Regions from separate parts of the Homo sapiens genome. Here region 1 is reported to be linked to region 2. Evidence: microRNA targets listed by miRTarBase, many of them from high-throughput screens and not tested one by one. Region 2 holds a microRNA gene; the other region holds the end of a gene's coding sequence.
The links. The annotated mature microRNA hsa-miR-4718 reads AGCUGUACCUGAAACCAAGCA and lies in region 2 at 1,343-1,363, shown strand. An mRNA with a match to its seed (bases 2 to 7 or 8) in the 3' UTR can be bound and repressed. Matches are read on the target gene's strand: a 7mer-m8 pairs with bases 2 to 8, a 7mer-A1 pairs with bases 2 to 7 and ends in A, and an 8mer does both.

Region 1 (4,404 bases), not on the chromosome of region 2:
ATTTTTTATTCCTTGAAGAAAGCTTTTTGGTACAAAGAGACAGGTTTGGCTTGTATCAAGTGAACCAAAAGGAATGTGTGTTTTCCTAATACCATGTCATGGTTACCTGTAGACTTTGGTCCTCCACTACCAGGAGAAGCAGCAAAGGAAAGAATAAACAATAACTGTGTGTAAACTATTTAAAAATGTATAACCCTTTACCTACCATCTTTGAGAAGCACCCTGTTTGAAGCATTTCTAAGCCAAATATTTATTGGATTTATTTCTTTTTTTTGTATAAAATATTGATAACTGTAATGTTTTATTTTTATTCACAGATTATTATAAGTATAGGCCTCATGTTTTATGTAGTTCATCGAGCTCAAGTGGAATTGAATGCAGCTATTGTAGCTTGTGAAATGGAACTGAAATCTTCTCTGGTTAAAGGCAATCAACCAAATACCAGTGGCTCTTCATTCTACAACAAGAGGACCCTAACATTTTCTGGAGGTGGAATCAATGTTGTATGATTCTAATGAGATACGTGATTGTCAAGAGCCTAGTGTGCTATCTAAGGTCTAGCAGTCACTTCACTAGTGGGCAGAGACAAGTTCTAATTGTATTACAGCACAAACAAAACTGACTAGTTTTTAAATTGCACAATTTTTTTTTTTTAAAGCAAGAATCATTTTCTGGGTATGTAAGTGTAAATGTAGATGCAAATTTGGCTGCACCTCTTTATCATGCCTGTATTGGCCTATAGGTCTGCACTTTAGTGTTTTTTAATTGTTTTATTTCTGTGTATTTACGAACAGAGAAATAACCCAAATATTATTTCTGCTTAGTGTCTTTATTTATAAAGCCCATGAGTAGTTTGTATGCATCTTTCCTACTTGTAAAGATGAGTAAAAGTATGCAGTTTTAAATTTATAATATTATTGGATGTTCTTTGCTTTGGTAGTCTTTCCAGAAAGGATAAACAGTGGTTTTTGTTTTGTTTTGTTTTATTGTTTAAGTGGGACCACTTAGCTTCCCGTTTCCTTACTAGTTAAAGAACAGACATTAATTTTCAGTTGAATGTATTTTTGCAGGCATCATATTGTTACAGGGCCATTTACACCTATTCACAAAGCTTAAATCCTACCTTGTGGGACTGAAGTGCTCTTAATATAACTGTTTATTTTCACTGTGTAATATGCAAAGCAAAAGGGAAATTATTTGGTGGATGGTAGCTCAAAATTGGAACTCTTGTTCTAATTCAGTTACATTGGCTTTACCCTCCTTAGATTTTTCATCAAAGGGCTGTCCCATTGCAATCTTACTAAAACATTTTGTTAAAATAAACTCTTTTCCTTTTTATATTAATAATTAGGCTTTTAAATAAAGATGTTATTCCTTTAAAATGGTGGGCTTACCATCATTGAAGATGTCACTCAGGTGGCCTTGTTTGATCAAAACGCCTTTTTTAAAAACCAAGCTTTAAAAACATGTTTATAATTTCATGAAGTACATATATATTGTTCCCATAGTCTTCAGCTTTAAAACTATAAATATGCCCAAATTTTGTTATTTGCCCTACTTTAAGTAGGTTTATTGTGTTTGTTTTTTCAGTACTTGTTTTTCTCTGATAAGACTCAGGAATTCTGAAATGTGAAATTGTCTCAATTCTTTCTCTTGTAGCATGAATCAAATGTATTTATTAATAGCACTTATGACTATAGAATATAATTTGGCATATGATTCATATTACATATGTATTCGTTTTATTTTTAAAATAGTTTATAAACTTAATGATTTTTTTTTACAAATGAGGTTATAGATATTAATGCAAATTTTCTGGTAGGTATCTCTTTTTTTGCTATGATGATTCCAACTTATCAGAGACCTCCCATTTGCCTTTTCATTACGGTGAAAGCTTTGCCCTCATCTACTAAAGTACAAAGGAATTCTTTGGAAGCAGATTATTCTAGTCTTATGCTAGAGATGAATTTGATCATTTTAATGTGTGATCTTTTTGCTCTATCAGGTATAATTGTTTTCCTTTCCTTTATAATGGGTAAGTTTTCTCACCTTTGAGTAACAGTAAAGTTCATTTATATGTCCATACCTAGAAGACCAGTGCAAATACTTTGAGAGCACCTGGGTCTACAGGACATAATTGGCATCTAAATCCTCATTTCTTGCTATTAGTAGGAAAACAGATATAGTATTGTAATACCCTTATTCTTTTTGAATCCTAATTACTCATTTCGGTTTTTTTTCTCTCTTTTGAATCTAGTTGCTGGTTTTCGTTTAATGATTTTAGTTTAACAATCCCAACCAACAATACATTTGATTTATTTTTTTCTGTCTAACCTGACAACCTTTTTCTTGTGCTTCTTGTTTGTTGGTTAGTTTTTGTGAAAGGAATCATTGTTTAAGATCACTGTTTTCATACTTGTTTTACACTTCACGTATTTTGAAGTACATTTATTTACTAAGCATTTGTGACTTGAATAATTTCACCAAATGAATACATTTTGGTAGTTTGTAATGAGTTCTTCTAATTGTTACACTTTGCTTGGTACTTAACAATAAATATGTAAAGGTAAAAGAAATAATTTTCTGTATTCTGCCAATCTTAATTTTATATAATAAATCATCCATTTTTTTCTTAAAATAGTATGGATTGACTGTTTCTAAAATACCAATCTGTGGCTGTGGTTTTTCTTTTCTTCAGCATTTCCAGCATCCAAGTAAACAATAGTCCCTTATAGTCCTGCTACTTGATGGGTAAATTTGGTTGCTGGGTTTTTAAGTTGCACTCACAATAAATCGTGCAAAGCATTGTCATGCCTTATTTACTCCATTTTTAATCCTGCATCCCAGATTTATGGCAGCAACACATATCTACAGGATACTTTTATGTTGTCCAAATATTGCTGTCAGTCATATGTACTTATAAAATGTCTCCACTCATGTATATTTATAGAAATGAAATGTCAAATTTCTCAGACTGTTAAAGTGCAGTATAAAGTTGCTTAATGCACACTTAAAAATGATATATAATTTCTGAATCCTATGAAATATGTGTTCTTTTTTAATTCTTTGGGAGTTTTCTTAAGTTTTACATGTTTTTTGGTTTATTGTTAATGATTTTGTTTACTCTTTGCCAAATTTTGTCATGTAGGTTATTTTACAATAGCACCTTTAAAAAAAATGTATATGCTAATTTACTAAGCATATTCATGTCCATTTTTATTTGATCATCTGATTTGTGAAATAACTTGAAATTTGTACTGTTTGGTTTGTGAAAATAATATTACCAAATCTCTGTCATTAGAATGTGTACTTTATGTTCAGAAGTGACTGTGGGTTTATTCAGAGCCAGCCATTCTCTCCCTTGATGCACTTTGTAACCAGCTACACATGCTTTTAGGTGGCTTTTCCCTGATAGGGTCAAGTATATGACTATAAAACATTTTTCTTGTGAAGCTATTAAGTTCATTAGTTACTCTTATTTCCCCTTGTTGTAACTAAGTGGTGCAGGTATAAGCATATCCCCAGCATTCCTGTGTGTGTGAATGTGCACTGCTGATTTGGACTGTTCTTGAGAAAGGTGCTGTGACATATGTCAATATTTGTTAGCTCTGGGGATATCTTTAGAATGCTTGAGAAAGTTGCTAGGTGTGTGCCACATTGGTGCAGGTAAATCCATGCTGTTCACAGCCAAGCAGCATTTGCAGAGAAAAGGAGAGTTTTACATAGACCCCAGGAAAAACAGTACTAACCTGGTTGATGGCCTTGGTGGTGGAATTTTGTTTCAGCCAGAGGCTACTCATTATATCAGAATGATGTTCAGTATAACACTATCTGATTTTTAGATTGGTCGATTTCTGTTGTAATCAAGTATTTAGGATGTAATCTTTTTAAAGTCATTGCTTTAATCTGAAAAGCCATTAGAAGGGAGAGGAATCACTGTTCCACAGGATATTTAAAACTCAGGAGTTCAAATAACCTCACATATTGAACATAAACTGTTAACTTATTCCACAACTAAATTCTAACCTGATACTTATGAATTGCAAAGTGATTGCTGCAAACTTTTTCTAAGGTGGCTGAAGATTTAAAATAGATCATTCTAAAGGGAAATCAGTAAAATGTCTTGATAATTGGTATCCAAATCACTTGTGTGCCTGAGAAAATAAAAGGTAATATTTTACTTTCTTCTCGCTTTTCTTTCTTTGTCTTTATACTTTAATGCATGTAGAGAAAAGACCCTACATGTCATGTAGGGTGGATTCAGGGGATATCCTGAATCCCCTGAATCACTCCTTGATTGAGGGGATAGGGAGGATGTACTCCTAAAAATGAGAATGTTGATAATTGACCCTCCATGGGGTGCTTATGGTTCTTGAAGAAGCTTTAAGGAGAAGTTATTCTGAC
Region 2 (4,404 bases):
CTAATAGTTTCATGTGGCTGGGGAGGCCTCACAATCATGGCAGAAGGTGAAAGGCATGTCTTACATGGCGGCAGGCAAGGGAGAATGAGAACCAAGAGAAAAGGGAAAAACCCCTTATAAAACCATCAGATCTCCTGAGACTTATTCACTACCATAAGAACAGTATGGACTGGGAGGCTGAGGTGGGCGGATCACAAGGTCAGGAGATCGAGACCATCCTGGCTAACACGGTGAAACCCCGACTCTACTAAAAACACAAAAAATTAGCCAGGTGCGGTGGCGGGCGCCTGTAGTCCCAGCTACTCGGGAAGCTGAGGCAGGAGAATGGCGTGAACCCAGGAGGCGGAGCTTGCAGTGAGCCGAGATAGCGCCACTGCATGCTGGCCTGGGCGAAAGAGCGAGACTGCGTCTCAAAAAAAAAAAAAAAAGAACAGTATGGAGGAAACCGCCCCCATGATTCAATTATGTCCACCTAGCACCACCTCCTTGACACGTGGGGATTATGCAAATATGCCTAGAAATGTCTCTTGGAAAGATACCCAAGAAACTGGATGTGGTCTCCAGGAGCGAAGACGGAAAGATTGACTTACCATGTCCTTATATACCTTACCTATATATAGGATTTGATTTTTCCCTCCATACGCACAAATGACCTTAAAAATTAAACACCTTTAGGCCAGGCGCGGTCACTCACGCCTGTAATCCCAGCACTTTGGAAGGCCAAGGCATGTGGATCACCTGAGATCAGGAGTTCAAGACCAGCCTGGCCAACACGGCAAAAGCCTGTCTCTACTAAAAATACAAAAATTAGCCGGGCGTGGTGGCACAGTCCTGTAAGTCCCAGCTACTCTGGAGGGTGAGGCAGGAGAATTGCTTGAACCCAGGAGGCAGAGGTTGCAGTGAGCTGAGATCATGCCACTGTACTCCAGCCTAGGCGACAAGAGCAAAACTCCATCACAGAAAAAAAAAAAATTTAAACACCTATATAAATACGTGTACGTTAATTATATGTCCATTACACTATGTGCACACACACACACACATACACACACACCTATCTGTTTTTATCAGGCCATTATTAAAACTGAACAAAACTGGATGACTTCATATAGTTCTGGACAGGCCTAGACAGGAGAGCACAGATGCCTTCACACCGATCCTGTCTTCCCGAGAGAGATACGCTCTTGGTTTGGTGAGTGTGTGGCAATGGTTTTCTCCCCAGGAGATGGCACCCCAGATAAATCAATCAGAGCAGTGTGGGACCAGGCCTTTTTCAGCCTTGGAGAAAGAAGCCTTTGCCCTAAAAATACAAAAGTGTCAGCTTCTCTTCTGTGTTCTTTGTAGCTGTACCTGAAACCAAGCACCTGTTTGTGACTTGGCTTCAGTTACTAGCAAGCTTTTCCTAAAGAGGTGTTCAAATCCCGCACACCAAAGGATTTGTGCTTCAGTGAAGGAAACTTCTTGTTTTCTGTACCTTTACCTTTGATATTAACAAAGTGTTTTATTATTTTATTTATTATTTATTTTGAGACTGAGTCTTGCTCTATTGCCCAGGCTGGAGTGCACTGGCGCAATCTTGGCTCACTGAAACCTCTGCCTCCTGGATTCAAGCGATTCTCCTGACTCAGCCTCCTGAGTATCTGGTACTACAGGTGTGCACCACCACACTTGGCTAATTTTTGTATTTTTAGTGGAGACAGGGTTTCACCATGTTGGCCAGGCTGGTTGACCTCAGGTGATCTGCCCGTCTTGGCCTTCAAAAGTGCTGGGATTACAGGCGTGCGCCATCGTGCCCAGCCCAAACTGTTTTATTTTATACAAATTCTGTGCAAAGCTTAGTTTACAGCTCAACACAAATAAACAAAATTATATGTTATTAGGATAAAAATCCCATGCCCAATTCATTTATCCCTCAGTTAAACTGTTTTGGCATGGGGGACTAAAAGTAAACAAGATTTGGAATGTCCCTAGGATGGCTATGAATGGCATGTTGCCATAGTATTTCAGAAGCCACTGGTAAAGCCCTAGATGGATAGGATGAGCTCTTGGCCACAAAGCTTTTCTTAGGATTTTAATATACTACAATTTATCGTTTACTGGGAACCCAGGTGGAGTGACTTCATTTCCAAGAACATAGGTGTCCACGTTACCACGATTATTTTTTTCAGATTAAGGCTCTATCTTCTGAAGGGAAAATGACCACTATGCTTCACTGAAAGTCCATCTCAATCAGAAAGACAGGCAGATACCACGGAAACTTAGTACTTACCTGCCAAGCCCAAGACATCAAGATGATACACATTTTGTGTTTCTCTCTGAGGGTAAAAGAAGAAGGAAACTGCTGCAAAGTACCAAGGAATATAACCCGGTTATAAAACAGACAGAACGAGAAACAAATGGCAAACCCAAGTGTTGACCTTCCCATTCAACCAGACCACCCCTCTGCTTGCTGGAACTAGGAGTAGAGAAAAAATACAAAAAAAGGAGGCCGGGGCTGGGCAGGATGGCTTACGCCTGTAATGCCAGCACTTTGGGAGGCTGAGGCAGGCGCATCTCCTGAGGTCAGGAGTTCCAGACCAGCCTGACCAACATGGTGAAACCTCGTCCCTACTAAAAATAAAAAAATTAGCCGGGCATGGTAGCGGGCACCTGTAGTCCCAGCTACTTGTGAGGCTGTGGCGGGAGAATCCACTTGAACCTGGGAGACGAAGGTTGCAGTGAGCCAAGATCACACCACTGCACTCTAGCCTGGGTGACAGAGCAAGATTCCGTCTTAAAAAAAAAAAAAAGGCAAAATAAATAAATAAATAAATAACAACCAGACCATCCCAGCCAGCAATATGCAGAGCTGCTAAGATTCTACTAGCAAATAATTTTTAAAAACCAACCACCTCTGAGACCTTCAAAATATTTTCTCTCCGCTATGGAGGTTGTCTAAATAACAGATTCTGTGAATAGACTTCAACTGTGTTATGAATCCATTTACTGTCTTAGTAAGAATGTTTTTTTTTCCCAGCAAGAACAAGCAAACCAATGTTCTCTGAGGCAAACAGACAAGAAAAGATGCTGCTTAGTTAAAGAAAATAAGACCTCGCTAATCCCTATTCCCTGAAGGCACGGCAACTCAAAGGAGAACTGATGATGATACACTCAGCCACTGCTGGAAAATTTTAAATTAAATAGCAGGACAACCTTAGTAAGCGGAGAAACAGTCAGGTGATGTAACAGGCCACTAATGGAGCCTTTTACTCATTCGGGGTGGCAGCGAGTGGACTTCCCAGCTCAATATAAGCAGCAGCCAAAAGAACAACAAAATCAATATCGCCCTCAGGTAAGTAGATGCCGAGCAGTTAGTTGCAAACCAAATGATTTCTCCAGCTGAGGCAGGCTGCAGGGCAGCCAGACGAATGACAGTTTGCAATGAGGAAGAATTTCCTGCTGGAAAGACTGCTGCCATACTTTGTCAAATCCTTTCCCAGCTGGGCGCGGTGGCTCACGCCTGTAATCCCAGCACTTTGGGAGGCCAAGGAAAGCGGATCGCTGGAGCCCCAGAGTTCAGACCAGCCTGGGCAACACGGCGAGACCCTGTCTCTACAAAAATACAAAAATTAGTTAGGTGTGGTGGTGTGCACCTGTAGTCCCAGCGTGAGGCAGGAGGCTCACCTGAGCCTGGGGAGGTCAAGTCTGCAGTGAGCTGTCATTGCACCACTGGACTCCAACCTGGATGACAGAATGAAGCCCTGTCTCAAGAAAAAAAAATCCCTTCCCACCAGCATAGTTTCCTCAGCCTGCCCTGGCTTTCAGGGGTTTCTTTCTCCCAGGGATTCTAGCCACTGGCTTTCCCACGGACCCCAAGGCTGGGTGGTGCAGTAAGATGCAGGCTCCAGTGTATTTTCATTGCACAATAAAGATGCTCAGTAGATGTGTGTGGGTTGGTCTAATGTGAAATGAGCTGAGGGCAGAAATTAACAGGAAGACATCGGGATACCCACTTCTTGACTCTCCTCACCCCTATTTCAGGAGTGGGTTATCAGCGGGGCTCTCTCAGAATCCTTCCTCATCAGTCCAGGCTTTCTGATGAGAACAGGAGGGTCGGCAACGTCTCCACCCGGCTCCCATCTAACTTCCGTATGTGCGCACACACACCGCACATGCACACGCATGTACACAATGCACACATATAGTGCACACATACACATGCACACAGGGTGTCATTCCTTTGTCTTCTATAGCCTCTTCCCCTAACAGAGCAGTGGGCGAGCCTTAGGCAATTACAGGTGTGACTTCTGGCTTACTGCAATCTGTGAAGCTGCAATGGGCAGGATATGCCTGTTCTGGATGAACTATGTCCCTGAAAATTCCTATTTGAAGTCCTGACCCCAGTACCTCATCATATGACTGCAA

Region 1: the mRNA of TMEM64 is a reported target of hsa-miR-4718. Seed matches in the 3' UTR shown: 7mer-A1 at 603-609.

The regions. Positions count from the first base shown.
Region 1 is chr8:90,621,776-90,626,179 of GRCh38, reverse strand. It overlaps TMEM64 (transmembrane protein 64), which reads left to right. Exons shown (of 3, transcript NM_001008495.4): 3 at 318-4,180. The coding sequence ends at 509. Among named protein-coding and RNA genes, the nearest start is that of LINC01030, 18 kb to the right of the region's middle.
Region 2 is chr16:12,718,979-12,723,382 of GRCh38, forward strand. It overlaps MIR4718 (microRNA 4718), which reads left to right and starts at 1,343; the gene lies at 1,343-1,393. All of the region lies in intron 2 of CPPED1 (calcineurin like phosphoesterase domain containing 1), which reads right to left.